Homo sapiens: one gene and its partners. The protein of the gene in region 3 purifies or fractionates together with the protein of the main gene of each other region. This does not show direct contact. Each region holds a gene or a part of one and is shown on either strand. Other genes may lie near its edges.

Evidence for each region.
Region 1: the proteins of ACAD10 (region 3) and TIPRL fractionate together in Homo sapiens (co-fractionation; one large-scale study listed by BioGRID). This does not show direct contact.
Region 2: the proteins of ACAD10 (region 3) and OXSR1 fractionate together in Homo sapiens (co-fractionation; one large-scale study listed by BioGRID). This does not show direct contact.
Region 4: the proteins of ACAD10 (region 3) and NDUFAF5 purify together in Homo sapiens (co-immunoprecipitation; one large-scale study listed by IntAct). This does not show direct contact.

What each region holds. Positions count from the first base shown.
Region 1 is NC_000001.11:168,188,258-168,193,059, reverse strand, and holds part of TIPRL (TIP41-like protein), read right to left. Parts: intron 1,692-4,802; coding exon 1,560-1,691; intron 853-1,559; coding exon of another isoform or gene 832-852; exon of another isoform or gene 665-831; intron 1-664. UniProt on the Homo sapiens protein: May be a allosteric regulator of serine/threonine-protein phosphatase 2A (PP2A). Isoform 1 inhibits catalytic activity of the PP2A(D) core complex in vitro. The PP2A(C):TIPRL complex does not show phosphatase activity.
Region 2 is NC_000003.12:38,223,705-38,228,506, forward strand, and holds part of OXSR1 (serine/threonine-protein kinase OSR1), read left to right. Parts: intron 1-107; coding exon 108-209; intron 210-866; coding exon 867-1,000; intron 1,001-4,802. UniProt on the Homo sapiens protein: Effector serine/threonine-protein kinase component of the WNK-SPAK/OSR1 kinase cascade, which is involved in various processes, such as ion transport, response to hypertonic stress and blood pressure.
Region 3 is NC_000012.12:111,744,353-111,749,154, forward strand, and holds part of ACAD10 (acyl-CoA dehydrogenase family member 10), read left to right. Parts: intron 1-290; coding exon 291-691; intron 692-1,791; coding exon 1,792-1,932; intron 1,933-2,696; coding exon 2,697-2,834; intron 2,835-2,942; coding exon 2,943-3,033; intron 3,034-3,964; coding exon 3,965-4,123; intron 4,124-4,802.
Region 4 is NC_000020.11:13,787,847-13,792,648, reverse strand, and holds part of NDUFAF5 (arginine-hydroxylase NDUFAF5, mitochondrial), read right to left. Parts: intron 4,061-4,802; coding exon 3,997-4,060; intron 1-3,996. UniProt on the Homo sapiens protein: Arginine hydroxylase that mediates hydroxylation of 'Arg-111' of NDUFS7 and is involved in the assembly of mitochondrial NADH:ubiquinone oxidoreductase complex (complex I, MT-ND1) at early stages. May also have methyltransferase activity.

The DNA of each region.
Region 1 (4,802 bases), on a different chromosome or scaffold from region 3:
AAAACAAATCTGTTGCTGCTTTTGTATTATTTTCATTCTTTAAATCACAGCATCCACAATCATTATGCCCCAAGAACAATGTTTGATGTTAGGGTCTCTGTCTTTGACAGATCTCATGACAAATGCTATAATTGAGAGGTTTTTTGTTTGTTTTGTTTGTTTGTTTGTTTGTTTTGAGACGGAGTCTCGCTTGTTGCCCAGGCTGGAGTGCAGTGGCACGATCTCGGCTCACTGCAAGCTCTGCCTTCCGGGTTCACGCCATTCTCCTGCCTCAGCCTCCCGGGTAGCTGGGACTACAGGCGCCCGCCACTGCGCCCAGCTAATTTTTTGTATTTTTAGTAGAGACGGGGTTTCACCATGGTCTCGATCTCCTGACCTCGTGATCCGCCCGCCTCGGCCTCCCAAAGTGCTGGGATTACAGGCATGGGCCACCGCGCCCGGCCTAATTGAGAGGTTTTTAAAAAGGAGTATAGAAAAGAGATATTTAACTCTGTGTAACGGAGTTGTGAAGGGCCTTGTAGAAAAGGTGGTATTTTAGCTGGGTCTTTGGGTCTTAAAGAATGAGGCATTTAGTAAAAAGTTTCAGTTGAGTTATTTCTGGAAAGTATTAGAGACCCAATTATAATGCAGTGGTAAAGAAATATGAATAACCATACTTGTTATGTGTGTTTTCTACTTCTTTTATTTTATTTTATTTTTTTTTTTTGAGACGGAGTCTTGCTCTGTCGCCCAGGCTGGAGGGCTGGAGTGCAGTGGTGCGATCTCAGCTCACTGCAAGCTCCGCCTCCCGGGTTCACGCTTCTCCTGCCTCAGCCTCCCGAGTAGCTGGGACTACAGGTGCCCGCCACCAGGCTGAAAATTGAAGTGGTAGTTGAATGATGCACTGAAATCATAACACATGGATCATTTTAAAAAATGACATCCACCTTGCCGTCTGCAGATCCTATCAACATCATTTTTAATCCAAAATGTGAAAATTAAGCCACAGTCTTCATTAGAGTTAAATAATAAACAAATAAACTACAAGGTGGCCAGGCAGGTCTATTAAAAATGCTTTGCTAAAATAAAGCCTTAAGAATACACAAATATTTTGTGAATTTTATAATGGATATTCAATAAGATACACTCTAGATTCAAGTGAAATTGTACATGACATCATGTTAAAGCTCAGTGTTATTCTTTTTTTTTTTTTTTTTTTTTTGCTCTGTCGCCCAGGCTGGAGTGCAGTGGCGTGATCCTGGCTCACTGCAAGCTCCGCCTCTTGGGTTCACGCTACTCTCCTGCCTCAGCCTCCCGAGTAGCTGGGACTACAGGCGCCCGCCACCATGCCCAGCTAACTTTTTGTGTTTTTAGTAGAGACGGGGTTTCACTGTGTTAGCCAGGATGGTCTCGGTCTCCTGACCTGGCGATCCAGCCCGCCTCAGCCTCTCAAAGTGCTGGGATTACAGGCGTGAGCCACCGCGCCCGGCCAGGCTCAGTGTTATTCAAAGTGAGTCATATTTTTGTCTGATGTTAAGAATGCAAGAAAAATATTAATTTTAAATAAAAATAATACTCACAATCTTCACACTCAGGCTTGAAACTCCATGATCATGAAGTTCATCCTCAAAAAGGAGAACTTCTTCAAAAAACTTAATCTGTTCTCTGGCTTTCAATTTTTCTGTATCTATATGATCTGTTGTAGGTACAACCTGAAAGAAAAAATTTTAAAGAGGAGCACATTAAAAAAAAAGTTGAGGAGCTACAGAGACACAGGAAAGCAGTCTTTTCTTTTCTTTTTCAATCAGTCTTTTCTACATAGCCAGAGCACACAGTTCTAAATTTGGGTGTCATTAGTAGATATAAAAGATCAGAATATGGCTTGATTCTGAAAACTGAAGACATTACAGATGCCCAATATTATAGCTTCACAAAAAAAGCAGTAAAAATTTATCATTTTTCATGCAAGTCATATTAAAATCAACTTCTGTTGTGACTATGAGAAAATTAATCAACTAAACATCAGTCAGTGTGATGAACGACTGCTATCATAGAAGGTCATAGAACATTTGTGCTGTGAAAGCCACTTTTAGGACATTCATATGGAACTTAAAAAATATTTTTCCATTAGAATGTTAGATATTTGCTCAACCTAACTCCCCAAAACCTACAACAAAATAAAGTGCTTTAAATAATGAGGTAAACAAGAACTTGTAGAGAAATTCTGAGGGAAACTCTTAGCATTGCAAAGAGCTTTGAATGAAGTTGGCAATTTTTCAAGGTATTATTTTGTAGCTCTAAGACATGCACACACGTAATCCAACAAAAGCATCAACAGTCCCAAGGCAGATCATATCAGGAGCTCATTAAACTCAAGTGTCTCCTGAGCAGCACCCAAGTATGAATTGTGATACTATTTTCTACCACACCTAATTTCACTACAAAATGCTCAGCTGTTTTACTCCTTGACAGGTTTACCATAAACAAACACAACAATGCTTGTCAAACCATAGATATTTAGTAAATGTAGCTTTACTTAAGCGTCATGATTAGGTGATTTGTTTTGACTCATGGACAAAATTAGCAGATGGAGAGTAATTTGAGATAACTAGATAAGAATCAGAAGAAAATTACAAAGGATGTTGTTTACAAGACTGCACAGATTTTGGGAGGAAATCTAAGGGAACGTTAAGTAATGTAGGGGGAAAAGATGCCATGAAAAGAAAGTGGCAGTTTGTATATGATTTCCAGGAGGTAAAAAAATGTCCATAATTCTTCCATGGTCACTTAGAGATAACACTTAGCCCTAAGCAGTTTTACTTCCAACTGTGTACGGAGCAGGTATAAGGCCACTCTTGAGGTGAAAACTGGGAGGGGAAGGGAGTTGGAGTGTAGGGGCAGGGCATATAACCAGTCCCCTGCATCACACATTAAGTTTATGATCTAGTTAAACAAAAGTTGGTCTGCCAACGAGGACTGCCTAAGGTTACACAACTGAAATTAGTGTTAAATACACACACTTGTAAATTTCGTCCTTTTTATTTGATTTTAGTTCAGAGGAACACATTTTTAACATCCTCCTTATAGATACTCCTGAATCCCCCAAAATTAATCATTATCTGAATTTTCTCATTAGTAAATTGCTTCATTAATGTTTCACATATGCCTTCAGTAAGTGATTGGTCAAAATGAATCTGTCAGTTTTTCCATTTACGTACTTGTTCTTATAAAATGAAAGACAAAGTCAAAAAACAAAGCATGAGTTAGAGATATCATATTTAACTTATTTATGCTATTGTCTCCATTTGCAAGGCTAAATATGTCTAAAACTTTATACTTTTCAGCTCTCTTCCTCAACTCCACATATCTCTCTCTGAACCCAGGGATCTAAAAAATACAACAAAAAAAAAATAACCAGCTAAATATAAAACATATGGGCTGGGCGCGGTGGCTTATGCCTATAATCCCAGCACTTTGGGAGGCAAGGCGGCCGGATCACTTGAGGTCAGGAGTTTGAGACCAGCCTAGCCAATATGGTGAAACCCCATCTCTACTAAAAATACAAAAACTAGCTGATCGTGGTGGCAGGCACCTGTAATCCCAGCTACTCAGGAGGCTGAGGCAGGAGAATCGCTTGAACCCGCGGGGCAGAGGTTGCAGTGAGCTGAGATCACACCATTGCACTCCAGCCTGGGCGACAAGAATGAAACTCTATCTCAAAAAAATAAAAAACATATGGAACAGTATTGGCAGAATAAGTAATCTAGACAAACCTTCTTGATGAAGACAATTTAAAAAGCTGGCTAAAAAAACCCAAAAACTTCCTAAAAGCATCAAATGGCCAAGGCAGTATGGAGTTACTGGGCTGAGATCTGGAAAGACTGGAGCCGAGAAAAGTAAGTCTGTACTTGGCTGGCTTTTGCCCTGAGGCATAGCACTGGCTGATCCAGAGAAGAAGCTGGGCTCTGCTAGCTTTTGGTGCCATCACTGCTCAGTGCTCACTAAGGACAAGGACCCTGGAGAATTTCCTGCTTCCTCCCAAATCAGAGATGACACCCTAAAGAGCTATAGTGATTTCAGAACTTTTTTTTTTTTTTCTTGAGACAGAGTCTCGCTCTGTTGCCCAGGCTGGAATGCAGTGGCACCATTTCAGTTCACTGCAACCTCCAGCTCCTGGGTTCAACCAATTCTTGTGCCTCAGCCTCCCAAGTAGCGAGGATTACACACACATGCCACAACGCTTGGCTAATTTTTTTGTGTTTTTAGTAGATACAGGGTTTTGCCATGTTGGCCAGGCTGGTCTCGAACTCCTGACCTCAGGTGTTCCGCCTGCCTCGGCCTCCTAAAGTATTGGGATTCAGGTATGAGCCACTGTGCCCAGCCTCAGAGCTTCTTATCTGCAGGCCCAGTACACCTCAAACTCTGGTCCTAGACCAAGGCAGGCAAACTAAGACATGCAGCTCACATCTGCCCTGTTACCTATTTTTATGGGCTGCAAGCTAATAATGGCTAAATAATTGGAGAAAAAAAATCAAAAGAAAAATATTTCATGACACATAAAAATTACATGAAATTCAAATTTCACTGTCCATAAAGTTTTATTAAAGCATAGCCATGCCCATTCATTTATATATTGTCTATGAGTGATTTAGACTATGATAGCACAGCTGAGTTGCTGCAACAGAGACTCTAAGGCCCACAAAGCCTAAAATATTTACGTCTGACTCTTTACAGAAGAAGTTTGCAGAGCTCTGTCCTTGACTATGAATATTCTCGAGCGCCTGTCAGAACTAAACAAAAATCCTCTCTGAAGGAAAACACCA
Region 2 (4,802 bases), on a different chromosome or scaffold from region 3:
CTCCCAAAGTGCTGGGATTACAGGTGTGAGCCTCCACCCTGGCCAGAAGCTAACTTTTAAAAGTCCTTTTATGCTGGTAAAAATAATCATGCAAATCTGTTTTGCAGGTCCGTGGTTATGATTTCAAAGCTGATATTTGGAGTTTTGGAATTACAGCAATTGAATTGGCTACAGGGGCGGCTCCTTATCATAAATATCCACCAATGAAGGTGAGGCTTGTATTCCAAATACTACCCCAGCTCAAGTCCCAATTCCTTTTCAGAGCCATTTGCCAGTCTTTTAATTTTTTTTTTATTGTGGTAAAATACACATAACATAAAATTGACCATCATCTTTAACCATTTTGAATATATAGTTCAATGGTATTAAATGCGTTCATCACGTTGTGCAGTTGTCACCACCATCTGTATCCAAACTCTTCATTTTAAAACTGGAACTCTATACCCATTAAATAGTAACTCTTGATTCCCATTCTTAGCCCCTTGGCAATCACTTTTTGTCTCTATGATTTTGACTACTCTCAATACCTCATATAAGTAGAATCACACAGTGTTTATCTTTGCATGGCTAGCGTAATGTCCCCAAGTTTCATCCATGTTGTAGCATGTTGAAGAATTTTCTTGCTTTTTAAGGCTGAATAATATCCATTGCGTGTGTGTGTTGAGAAGCTAACCATCTACAGCAGATTATTTACGTGAAATACACGTAATAACTCTGGGTTTTAAACAACTGATTCAGATATGAACTTACAGAAAATAAAATGTTTGTATGTTGGTCGGGGGGTGCCTGTATTGAAAAATCTTGACCACAATAGTTAAACTTTACTGAGTCATCACAAGTTTATAGTATATTGAAAATTCTTGCAGGTTTTAATGCTGACACTGCAGAACGATCCTCCTTCTTTGGAAACTGGTGTTCAAGATAAAGAAATGCTGAAAAAATATGGAAAATCATTTAGAAAAATGATTTCATTGTGCCTTCAAAAAGATCCAGAAAAAAGGTAAAATATGAGAAAAAGTCTACTTTTCTCTCTAATAAAACATTGTGAGAAGTCTAAGAATCACATACTCATATGTACAGGAAATTATTTTCAAAAGAACTAAATATAAACTTTAAAAAAGTATACAGAGACCATTATACTGGATTGGAAATGAATTGATTTCTGCCTTCTTTGTAGTATACAGTGTACCCTAAATAGTTCAGCTTTTTCCTTGTTAATTTCTTACAAAGTTGTACATTGTGAATTCTGTATTAATAAATGCCAAGTTAGTGGAGAGATTTGTTTTTAATTTGCATTTAAAATTTATAAATGAATGTCTTAATGCCATTTACAGTATTAATAAAGGAAAGACACATAGAAAATTTATATTTAGTGTAATAATCATACTTATTTCCATGTTAGAAAGATATTTTAGTAAGTGGACCAAAAATTCAAATAGCTTCCTTATCAATGTTAGACAGATTGAATGACAAGTGAGCAAATAAATAAGAACATCCGATATGTGTAACTTCATGAATTAAGCAGAATCGTAGAATGTTGGGGATCATTGAGTACAACCTTTTATTTTTGAGGTCACTTGATACTTAGTCATAGGAGTAGGACTTGAATCTCAAAGTCCTGATTCCTAACTTAGGGCTCTGTTCCTTCTGAATCTTATCTGTCTGTTTCACATATATATTCCACTCAGCTTCTTAGCACTGAGTTCTTTAATTTTTGTTTCTCTAAAGATCATTAAAAGGGAAAGACTTTGATGTTCTTGATCACATCTCTAGTGTATGTAATAGGGTTTCAGAATTTATTGTTGGAAATATTGGAAAGGGTAAGAAAAACAGGTAGCAAAATTTATACCTGTGTTTTTATAATTTTTTTTTTTCTGTTTCTGAGTAAACAGTTAAAAAAGACAGGAAACACTTTTCTTTTATCAAATTAGTTGGTTAAAGGAACAAAATTATCCTGTTACAAATACCTAGAAATGCCAGATAAAATCTATCCAACTTAAAGATTCTCAGATGCCAGAAATAATGAGGAAGCCCTAAGTTAAAGAAGAAATATTGTGAACTAATCCCATGGCTGTTTTCAGTGGGTCACTATTCATTCTGGTAACCTACTGATTTGGATTTATAACTCCCATGTGAAAACTGGAAGTGAGATCTTGGGTCCACCCAGTGGGGAGTTTGAACTGAGATTCTTCTTAAAGCTAAGAACTTCAGATGTCAGTATCCTTAGTAAAAGGATAGACAAGAATAAAAATTGTCATCACCAAGAGACAACAAAAACCTCTCCTGAATAATCAAGCCCTTCAACCTGGACATTCCACAGGTTTAGAGTCTATACTCCCTATGTTATCCAGGAACCCACAGGATTAGAAAGTTAAAAAAGCTTTACCAAATCAGTTTTTATTTTTGACGGAAGTAGTCACAGAGCTGCACTGGAAGAACACTTTCAAACTCTAGCTCCCATTGGATTCCTGAACATAATGCCCCACTGTAATAAGGTCACAATCCAAAATTAAGAAACACACAGTGAAACAATGCATTATGAACTAGTTAGCAGACACAAGCAGAAGGATTAGTGCTCCAGAAGATTTAGGTAATGCAGTGAAAATCTGAAAAGATACAAAATTAAGTATATTGAAAATAATTAAAATTAGAAGAAATCAGACCCACAAGAGAAGACTGTGACTATGACAGAAGAACCAAATAGCAATGCCAGAAATGAAAAATACAGTGATTAATGTTTAAAACTTTCCATGAGTGTGAGCTGGACTTGTTGACTCACTTCTGATGAGTAGAGTATGAAAAAGGAAAAATAGCAACTTTACAATGCACCTCCTCTACCCAATGACCAAGGTTAACATCACTATTAATAATACATTGATAAGACTGATATGTGCCTCTTGATATGGTGCAATGAGAAGGGCATATATATAACCTGTGAGGTATTCTTCCTCCAAATCCGTAACTTCGGTCTATAATGAGAAAACATCAGACAAACCCAAATCGAGGAATATGCAGCAAGATACCTGACCAGCACTCTTCAAAACTGTCAAGGAAGAGAGACTAAGAAACTGTCACAGATTGGAGGAAATTAAGAAGACGTGAAGACGGAAAGCAAGAGTATCCTATACTAGATCCTGGGACAGAAAAAGGACATTAGTGGAAAAACTGGAGAAATGGAATGAAGTCTGTAGTTTAGTTAATAGTATTGTACCAGTGTTGATATTTTAGTTGATTTCTTTATTATTATACTGTGGTTATGTAAAAGGTTCACAATAGCAGAAGGTGGTGAATGGCATGTAGGAACTCTGTACTAGCTTTGCAGCTCTTCTGTAAGTCTAAAATTATTATAAAACTTTAAGAAAACTGGAAGCTATAGAAAATCTATTCCAGTTTGTAAACCAAAATTAAACTTTGTTTAGAACATTGCTAAGTTAAAATAACACGCACAATGGACTGGTTAAACAGAACAACCAATAAAACAAAAAAGAGATTATTTACTCATCAAGTACCAGGCACTGTGGTAAACACTTAACATATATTGTTTAATTCTCACAGTAATCCTTTGAGGATAGCACTGTTATTTTCTTTATTTTACAAATGAAGAAACTGAATCACAGAGAGGTTAAGTAACCTTCTCCAAAGTCACACAGCTAATAAATGGTGGAATCAGAATTCTGACCCATGCAATTGGACTAGAGTTAACCTGTTTTAATCAGACTACACTATACTGAGGAAATTGCTCAGAATGTGGCACAGAAAGATCAAAGAGGGAATATGAAAGAAATATTAACATTTGGAGGGTAGACTGAGAAGGTTCAGTATGTTTGTGTGTATGCACATCCACACACACACACACACACACACACACACACACACACACACAAATGTACGTATACATATACATGAACTTACCAGGAAAGACTAGAGAGAGTATAGGAGAAGCGATATTCAAAGAAATAATGGCTGAGAATTTTCGAGAGTTGATGAAAGACCTATATTCTCAGAGTAAAGAACCATCCCCCCAGAATTCCAAGCAGTGTCCCCCTTCTTCCACTTGTACAAGTTGCTGTGAAACTACTGGACACGAAGCAAAGACAAACTCCTACAGGCAACCTCGGGGAACAGATTACCTACTGAGGATTAGCAGGTAGACTTGACAGCTACTTCCCCAATAACACAACAGTTGAGGCCAGCGTTTAGTGAAATGCTCAGAGAAAATGCAGTCATGTGTCACTTAAAATGATGAGGATACATTCTGTAATATGTGTATTAGGCAGTTTTGTCATTGTTTGAACATCGTGGAGTGTACTTACACAAACTTTGATGGTACAGCCTACTGCATGCCTAGGCTATTTAGTGTAGCCTGTTGCTCTGACTACTGTCAGATACACAGTATATTGTTGGCCAAAGCATTAAGAGGCTCATGACTGTGACTTTAACCCAGAGTTCTCCAGCTAGTCAGACTATCATTCAAGAATGAGCATGAAATTATTTTGCACACAGAAATTGAGTTTTCCAGTCACGTTCTGTCACTTAAAGAACCCATAAGTTGTACTTTAGAAAGAAGGAAATGAAGTCAGAAGAAAGGAATGAATAATAAGAAGCAATGTTGAGCAATCACATTGTTGAGCATATTGAGAAGCAATTGTTGAGCATATGAAAAAATAAGAGTGATAATGTAGGATTTCAGTTTGCATAGCACTTTCACATTTATTCAGCTTTTTAATCTTTATAATAATCATCTGAGGTGCTGGTTCTTAAACTTGAATGCCTATTGGAATTACCTGGGGAGTTTTAAACAT
Region 3 (4,802 bases):
AGGGAGCAGGCAGACCTAAGTTGGACTCTGGCCCCCAGCCCCCTAACTTCCAGCTCGTCCAAGTCACCTCCTTCTCTAAGACTCAGTTTTCTTGCGTGCAAAGTGCAGGTGAAAGCAGTTGTATTGCTTTGGGGATTCAGTGAGCTATAGTGGCTCTTAGCACAGTGTTTGGTACTTAGCAAGTGCTCAGCAAATGGCAATAGCTGCTGAAGTGACAGTGTCATCACATGTTAACATCCCTATGATGGGTCGTGTGGGAGTAATCACTGTTTTTCTTTGATTCTGCTTAGGGCAAGCAAGCTCCACATATGCGGAACAAACTGGAAAGCTGACCGAATTTGTGTCTAACCTGGCGTGGGATTTCGCAGTCAAAGAAGGGTTCCGGGTTTTCAAAGAGATGCCCTTCACAAATCCGTTAACAAGGTCCTACCACACGTGGGCCAGGCCCCAGTCCCAGTGGTGCCCCACAGGCAGCAGGAGTTATAGCTCCGTTCCAGAAGCTTCCCCAGCTCATACCTCAAGGGGAGGTCTGGTTATCTCTCCAGAGAGCCTCTCTCCACCTGTCAGAGAGCTGTATCACCGGCTGAAGCACTTCATGGAGCAACGTGTGTACCCTGCAGAGCCAGAGCTGCAGAGTCACCAGGCCTCAGCAGCCAGGTGGAGCCCCTCCCCACTGATCGAAGACCTCAAGGTAAAGCAGCCATGGTGAGGTGGTAAGACCCCAATACCATGGCATACCCTCCCCGACCCCACCGGGCTCACCTGAACCATCCCAGGCAGTGAAGATACAGGAGCTCCGAGTTGAATGATCTTTGCTTCCATCGTCTCAGAAAGAGCCAGCTCTTCATGACTCAGTTTCCATCTCTTGCTCTTGCTGTGCCTGTGTCACAGGCAGATGGCTCAGGTGTGACTGCACAGCCCAGGCAGTGGAATGCTTGGCCTTAGAAAGCCAGGGCAGGTTAGGCCTATCTGATGGGTATTTGAATTATGTAAATTTGAAACAGTGCTGTATCAGCTAATAAATCTCTCTCTAGAGAACCCGTAATATCACAGCTAGAGGGCCAGATCCACTGTGAGCTGAGTTTCTGTGTTGTCTCCCAGTGCTGTCACTTCAGCTGATAAACAGAAACACCCGCTGTTCCTTATCACGTGAACCTTGGATTGTGTTAGTTTTGAAATTACTTGAGATCTTCAGGAGCATAATGCAATCATCATCTACTTTTCTTTTTTTCTCTTTTTTTTTGAGACGGAGTCTTGCTCTGTGCAACTTCCGCCTCCCAGGTTCAAGCGATTCTCCTGCCTCAGCCTCCCGAGTAACTGGGATTATAGGCACGTGCCACCATGCCCAGCTAATTTTTGTATTTTTAATGGAGATGGAGTTTCACCATGTTGTTCAGGCTGGTCTTGAACTCCTGACTTTGTGATCCGCCCGCCTCGGCCTCCCAAAGTGCTGGGATTACAGGCGTGAGCCACCATCTCTCTCTTTTTTTTTTTTTTTTTTTTTTTTGAGACAGGGTCTCGCTTTGTCACCCAGGGTGGAATGCAGTGGTGTGGTCATAGCTCACTGCAGTCTCAACCTCCTGGGCTCATGTGATCCTCCCACTTCAGCCTCCTGTGTAGCTGGGACCACAGGCACAGCCACCATGCCCAGCTCCTCATATCATTTTTTTGGGCACACGTGCATGTTTGGTTGTCTGCCTTGTTTCCTCCAATCCCTTTCATTGTTTTCCACGGTTCAAAATAAAATGAAATCTTCCACTGTGGTTTCCTGACTTATTTTCCCCATGATAGGAGAAAGCCAAAGCTGAAGGACTTTGGAACCTTTTCCTACCCTTAGAGGCTGATCCCGAGAAAAAATACGGAGCAGGACTGACCAATGTGGAATATGCACATCTGTGTGAGCTCATGGGCACGTCCCTGTATGCCCCCGAGGTACCTTCTTTAAAGTTTTCCTCAGTGTGTGGGAACATCCTGATCTTCATAAGAACTCAATCCTAAACAGATAAACCAGATTCAGAAGCACTGGCATGAACTTGAACTTTTTTTTTTTTTTGAGATGGAGTCTCGCTCTGTCACCCAGGCTGGAGTGTAGTGGCGAAATCTTGGCGCACTGCAACCCCTGCCTCCTGGGTTCAAGTGGTTCTCCTGCCTCAGCTTCCCAAGTAGCTGGGACTACAGGCATGTGCCACCACACCTGGCTAATTTTTGTATTTTTAGTAGATACAGGGTTTTACCATGTTGGCCAGACTGGTCTCAAACTCCTGACCTCAGGTGATCCACCTACCCTGGCCCCACAAAGTGCTGGGATTACAGGCGTGAGCCACCATGCCCATCCAATTTGAAGCTTGAAATATTAATGTGAGAAGGCCAGGCATGGTGGCTCACACCTGTAATCCCGGTACTTTTGGAGGCCGAAGTGTGGGGGATCACTTGAGGCCAGGAGTTCGACACCAGCGTGTGCAACATAGAACTCTGTATGTACAAAAAAATAAAAAATTAATCGGGTGTGATGGTGCATACCTGTAGTCTCAGCTGCTTGGGAAGCTGAGGCATGGGAGGATGGCTTGAGCTGAGGAAGTCGAGGCTGCAGTGAGCCATGATCGTGCCACGATACTCCAGCCTGGGTGACAGAGCTTGACTCTGTTTTTTTTAGAAGAGGACATGACAGTCATGGTCACGCTCCTTTTCCTTCTCAGGTATGTAACTGCTCTGCGCCTGACACGGGCAACATGGAGCTGCTGGTGAGGTATGGCACCGAAGCGCAGAAGGCTCGCTGGCTGATTCCTCTGCTGGAGGGGAAAGCCCGCTCCTGTTTTGCTATGACCGAGCCCCAGGTACGTCGCCTGGGCTGCCACCCACTTGCCTGGCCCTGTTGTTGTCGGCCCCACAGGGAACACGGGCTGTCTGCTGGCGTCTCTGACTGGAATATGCTCCCCACTCAGGTTGCCTCTTCAGATGCCACCAACATTGAGGCTTCCATCAGAGAGGAGGACAGCTTCTATGTCATAAACGGTCACAAATGGTGGATCACAGGTATTTGGCCTAAAATGCACTTTCCAAATGCACATCAGGGAGTCTGTGCTGTTAGGCGCGTCTCTCAATGCCTGGGAGGAGCCTCTGCTTTTTCAAGTTGACACAAAGGAGATTCTGTCACTTAGCGCCCCCAGCAGAGGCAGCTGGGAGAATAGGAGGGTAATCCGTGGAGCACACTGTTCTCAGAGGTGGCACTTCACAGGGCAGGGACGTCCCCCGGTGCCCACACATGGACGGATGCCTCCCTGCACATGTGACCCCAGGAATCTCTCCACTTCCTGCTGTTCATTCTGCTTTGGGCAGCTCCCCTTCCTTGGTGGCTTCCTGGCTCCTCGATCAGGTGTGTTACATCCTAAGGGCTAATGACAATCCTGACTTTTAGGGATTGTCCAGTGTTACTTTTGCAGGGCCCCTACAAGTAGCCGTGGAGCTTACCTCCCGGAGCCCATACCTCCCTGGACATTAAGAATGAGCATCCCCATTTTGCAAAGGAGGAAACCGCACTCAGACTTAGGTCCCTTGCCTGGGGTATGAGCCCCCAGCCAGCAAGTAGAGAACCCAGAGTCAAAGGTTCACCTGATTCCAAGGCCCGGGCCCAGAGCCGTTATGTGTGCACCACCTGTGGGAGCCGAGCCAGCTGGCAGGGATCAAGTAGCGGTTTTCATCCTCTTGTCTCTAAATTATATTTTCTACTCTATGTGATGCTTTTAAAAACTTGCTCTTATGATGTTGGATTCATTCCTCACTGGGACAAAACCCAATTTGCTCTTATTTCTGGTCAGCAGTCTGCAGATGCTCATCTGATTACATGGAGCCTTAAAGAGCTCTGTCTGCTTCCTTACTGTGCCTTTCTTGGGCCAGGACCACGTGTGTAGAGATTTGATGGCCCTGGTGTCAGATGATGGGGTCTGTCTCTCTCCTTTCCTGGCAGGCATCCTGGATCCTCGTTGCCAACTCTGTGTGTTTATGGGAAAAACAGACCCACATGCACCAAGACACCGGCAGCAGTCTGTGCTCTTGGTTCCCATGGATACCCCAGGGATAAAAATCATCCGGCCTCTGACGGTGTATGGACTGGAAGATGCACCAGGTGAGACCTCCAGGGGCGGGTCACCCCTGGGTGTGGGTCTGGTCCCCAGGAAACACCACTGAGGGGCCCCTGCTCTTGTTCAGGACTTGCCACATCCCACGTCTGAGGGTATGATGACATTTGGAGTCACATGCTCCTGCATTTCATTTCCATACATGAATATCAACCATGCAGGCGGATTTCAGACAGGCATTTATGGATTTTTTTCCCTCTTCTAAACTTAGAAAGTAATCAGGAGTCTGTGACACAGGAAGCCATACAGGGCAGACGCAGGAAGTGGACCCCAAACCTACTCTTCCAGGCCCCAGTGTGAACAGCTGACCTCTAGGCCACAGCCCTGGTTTGGTCCGCTCCCAGTTTGGTTCTCTGCTAATAGTGTTCACATTTTTACTTTCAGTGTTTTCATAGGATCACTACATTGTCACAAACCACTAGGAGCTTCAGCTTAAGGTGGCATTATTATGTTTTTATAAAAGGAATCACAGAATAGTCATTTGCCATTATAAATCAGTGATTCATTTTCTGTGTTTAACAGGCTGTTTCCTGCCGTCCTTTTCCCTTTAACCATGTCCCAGTAAGAAGGCTAAATAAAGGGCAGGGACATTGCCAGCAGATAACCCAGACTGAGGTGAGGAATAAACACATCCAAGGAAAATGACTATGGCTATTGCTCACAGTG
Region 4 (4,802 bases), on a different chromosome or scaffold from region 3:
TCTCTATCAATCTTTAGTCTGTGTCTTCTGTGTCTCCTTCCTCCACCTTACAACAGGCACAAGCTTTCCAATTACAAAAAATCTCCTCCCTCTAGGTACCTTCTGGTTGTTTGGTTTATAATCCACAACTCTACTTCTTCCTAGATTCTTTCTCCCCATTCTGGGTATCTCTTTGCTTTCACTGCTCTGCTAACACTATCTGCAGTCTGTGCTCACTGCTCTCAGTCCTGCTTCACCTGACCTCTTTGAAGCACAGCATTGTCAACAGCCTACTAGAAGCTTCTTCAGAAGCTTCTACTCTGGCTGCCCTTCTCTATTAGAGAAGCCAATCCTTTTTTACTTTACCCACACCCACTTCCCTGTCTGAAACTTGGAAAGATTTCATGCTACCAACATGATGTTGCTAAATATGGAGCTGGGAAGAGTGCTCAATAGCTCTCATGAGCCAGCTCCAGCACACTCCTGTGAGGGGTGAAGAATTAGATGGACAGGATTATCTATCCCTGTCTCTCACTTGAAAATTTGAACTAAGAGACTTCGAGATAATAGCAGAGGTCCCTGGAGTTGGAAGAACATTTAGACTTCAGGGTATAGGCAGTGGTGTGCTGGCTCTTGGTTGGGGACTGCTTTGTAGCATTTGCCAACTTCCATGGTATAAATATTCCCACCAGGGCTGATGTCAAGCTATCAATATGATGTCACAGAACAGAGGTTGGGAAGAGATGCTAACAATTGGCTCTCACAGGCTGGCCTAAGCTAGCTTCAGCTACCCTTGGGTGTAGCATATTCATATGGGGCCACACACACTGATGAACACTACTATGGATAGACTACAGGGAGTAAAAAGAATGAAGGCAACCAGACAGCATTCATGTAGTACCAGAGTGCATGCGAACAGGAGGAACATTGTTATGGTGTTTCAAAGTTCCCATCTCTTGTGAGGCCTGGCTCTATTTCTGGATCCCTGAGTTACATAAGAGCCTCTCTGTAACAAATGTCTCTGTGTTTAAACTGGCTTCAGCACATTTTTGCTTTCAACAATCAAAAGATACCTTACTAAGACACTTTCCATCTTACTATTCCTGGCATCTTTATTGGCTCTTCCTCTTTCTCCCAACCCTAAGTACAATTGCAGAAGGTTCTTTTCTATATTCTTGCCTCAGAGAGTTTACCTATTTCTACGGCTTCAATTGTCACTTCTGAAAGGGACTTCCAAATAAGAACTATAGCCTCCTTTGACAGGTTTACTTTGCCTCACTTAATCCCCTTACCAACCTTTTGAGATGGGTATTATTGATCATATTTTATAGAAACTGAGGTCTAGAGCAATTGATTGGCCCAAGGTCTGAGTATACACAGACAGTGGCAGAGCTGAAGTTTGAAGCCCTGACTTCAAGTCAATGCTCTTAACCTCAATATCCCAATTCCAGTTCCACATTTCCAACTACCTGCCAGCTATTTATACTACCATATTCCACTGCCATCTCAAACTCAACATATCTAAAACAGGAATGATCCCGTGCTCCTTGCCACATCACATCCCCTGAATTTTCCAGTCACAAAAGGTGTAACTTAAACTCTAAAGTTATCTTGCAATAGTCATTTAATAAATACTCATTGTGATTTAGGTACTAGGATTTAGTAGTGATCAAAAATGAGCAAATCCAGTAAGAGAAGAAAGACACCAAATAAACATACATCAGGAGCTTGTAAGTGCTATGGAAGCAAATAAAGCAACTAGTCGGCAGAAAGCAGGGGCACTATTTTCTAAAGCAGTCACGGGAGGAATCTTTGATGAAGTCAGCTGAGTAAAGATCTGACAGGTGAGCAACTAAGACACACAGATACCTTGGGGAAGAGCATAGAGCAAAGCTCTGGCCTGTTTGAGAGACTGCAAGGAGGCCAGGGTTGCTGAAAAGTTGGGAGTGAAAGGAAGAAGATGGGATCAGAGACATGATAAAAAAACAGAATCCTGAGGGTCTTATAGATTAGGACTCTGGATTACTACTAAACTAGATGACAAACTAACAGTTCTGGGCAGAGGACTGACAATGATTTGATTTGTGTTTTACGAGGATACTTTGCCATGACAACAGACTGTCAGGGACAAAGGTAAAGCAGGGAGACCAATAGGAGGCTACTGCAATAATCTAGGCAAGGGGCGATGATAGCTGAACAGCACGGTGATGGGGAAGGTGGCAAGAAGACATAAGAGTTTGGTTATATTTTGAAATGCAAATAAAAGCTGCTGACGGATTAGATGTGGGAGAGAAGGATATAAGAGGAATCAATAAAAATGTTTTTTGGCGTTGAGTTACTAAAAGAATAGATTTGCTCTGCCTACCATATCTGATCAGTCATCAAGTTCTGTTGATACTTCCAGGTCTCTCTCATACATCCCATCATTTATATGTGCTGGCTCTGCATGGGTGGCAGGCCTTTATTTCTCATGCCTGCAATGCCTTTAACACAGCCTTCTGATGGGTTTCTCTACCCTTTCTCTTCTTCAATCTTTCTCGAATGCCATCCCCAGATTAATCTTCCTTAAACATCACTATATCACACCCTACAGCATTCTACCTCTGTGCCTTTCCTCCTGCCATGCCCTGATTTCCAATGCTAGGAACCACCAACTCAAATTCTTTCAAATCCCAGGTCAGATTCTGTGCCCCCTGAGAATCCTTGACCACATGAACTCCTACTGATTTTTTCTTTTCCCCTAATTCCTGTTGCACTTTAATGACTGCACCATTTCTATGGCATTTACTATTACCAATAATAGTGTTTTAGGAGCCCCACCACTCCCTTCCTCACCCTGGCCCAAGTCTATGGTTTTATCTAAGCAGATTTTACGTAGAAATTCCACTTTATGAGGCTGGGCATGGTGGCTCACGCCTGTAATCCCAGCACTTTGGGAGGCCAAGGCGGACAGATCATGAGGTCAGGAGATCAAGACCATCCTGGCTAACACGGTGAAACCCCGTCTCTACTAAAAAATACAAAAAATTAGCCAGGCGTGGTGGCGGGCACCTGTAGACCCAGGTACTCGGGAGGCTGAGGCAGGAGAATGGCATGAACCTGGAAGGCAAAGCTTGCAGTGAGCTGAGATTGCACCACTGCACTCCAGCCTGGGCAACAGAGCGAGACTCTGTCTCAAAAAAAAAAAAAAGAAATTCCACTTTAAGGCTGGGCGCAGTAGCTCACGCCTGTCATCCCAGCGCTTTGGGATGCCGAGACAGGCGGATCACCTGAGGGCAGGAGTTCAAGACCGGCCTTGCCAACATGGTGAAACCCCATCTCTACCAAAAATACAAAAATTAGCAGGGCATAGTGGTGCACCCCCATAATCCCAGCTACTTGGGAGGCTGCGGCAGGAGAATCGTTCAAACCCGGGAGGCAGAGGTTGCAGTGAGCCGAGATCGTGCCACTGTACTCCAGCCTGGGCAACAGAGTGAGACTCCATCTCAGAAAAAAAAAGAAATTCCACTTTCATCTTTGTGTCCAGCACAATATCGTATAGATAGGAGCTAAAAGAATAAATTAATGTCTTCATGGTCTGAATTATAAAGTGCAAAATACAATGTTATAAGCATTAATAAAGCTACTTATATTTAATGATACAGAAAGATTTCTAATCAACTGATAAAATTAATATTTTTCTAGCTAAAAGTCACATTTTCTGTATGAATGCCAATCTGATTTTTATGGTAATTATAAAAAAATGTGAACAAAGAGAAATATATCTTCTATAGATTCAAATAAATTATCGGTAGAAACATAATATATAATGGATTCAGAGAAAAACCCTTTAAGAAAAAAATTCTAAAGAAGGGAGAAAACCACCATTGATTCTACCACTTAAAAAAAAAAACAAATTAACAATTCTGATATAATTAAAATCTAAATATGTTGCAAGCTAAACTGATTAGGAAAGTCTTTCTTTAAAATTAGCCAATGTTACTTTTCAAAGTAAATTAGGTCATTGAATAAATATACCTTATTCAAATATTGTGCAATGTAACCTCTTCCACAACCAAGATCCAAAGCAAGGGGGAAATTTCTAAAAAAAAAGACACAGAGGTTATGCTCTGTCCATAACACAGTCTATAAATTAAGAATTATTTTTTCTTAGGTAAAATCATTCCAGTAAACACAACTTCCAGAAGGTTACATCATCTGCCTTTTCAGCCTCACCTTACAAGCTGTATATACCAGAGCCTACAGTACAAGGCAAGTCTGTCTGCTAGCTATTCACAGGACCTTGTGATGAGCCAGCTTTCCACCAGGTGGCTCCATGATGTGGACTCGAAGAACAGATTTAATGAGGATATTTTAACTCAATAATACATCCAGATAAAGAATGCAAAGAAGCTAATGTAAATTAACTTGAAAATAACTGACATACTTATCAATAATTATCCCTATTTCTCAGACTTCTTGAAGCAGTGGAATACTTAGAAATCATCATGTGAAATACCATTAAGTATTAATGTTAAACTAAAAAATAAGAACTTAAGTAACAGTTAAACTTTTACTGAAAACGTACCAGGTTCAAAGTACTGTGCTAAGTGTCTGAAGCTAAGTAAGTCAAACCAAGTGCCTCAACTAACAAGGGGCAGTCAACACTTGAATTCGGTCAGTCTGAATCCTGAGCTGGAACTATTATCCTCCATGCCATGCTGTCTCCTCTAAATACACTATGTTATGCTACATTGGTACAGACATCTAATTGTAGGCCATAGGTTTAAAAAAAAAAACCTATAATAAGAAAACTTAAAATTTTATCTACTAAGAACATTCTT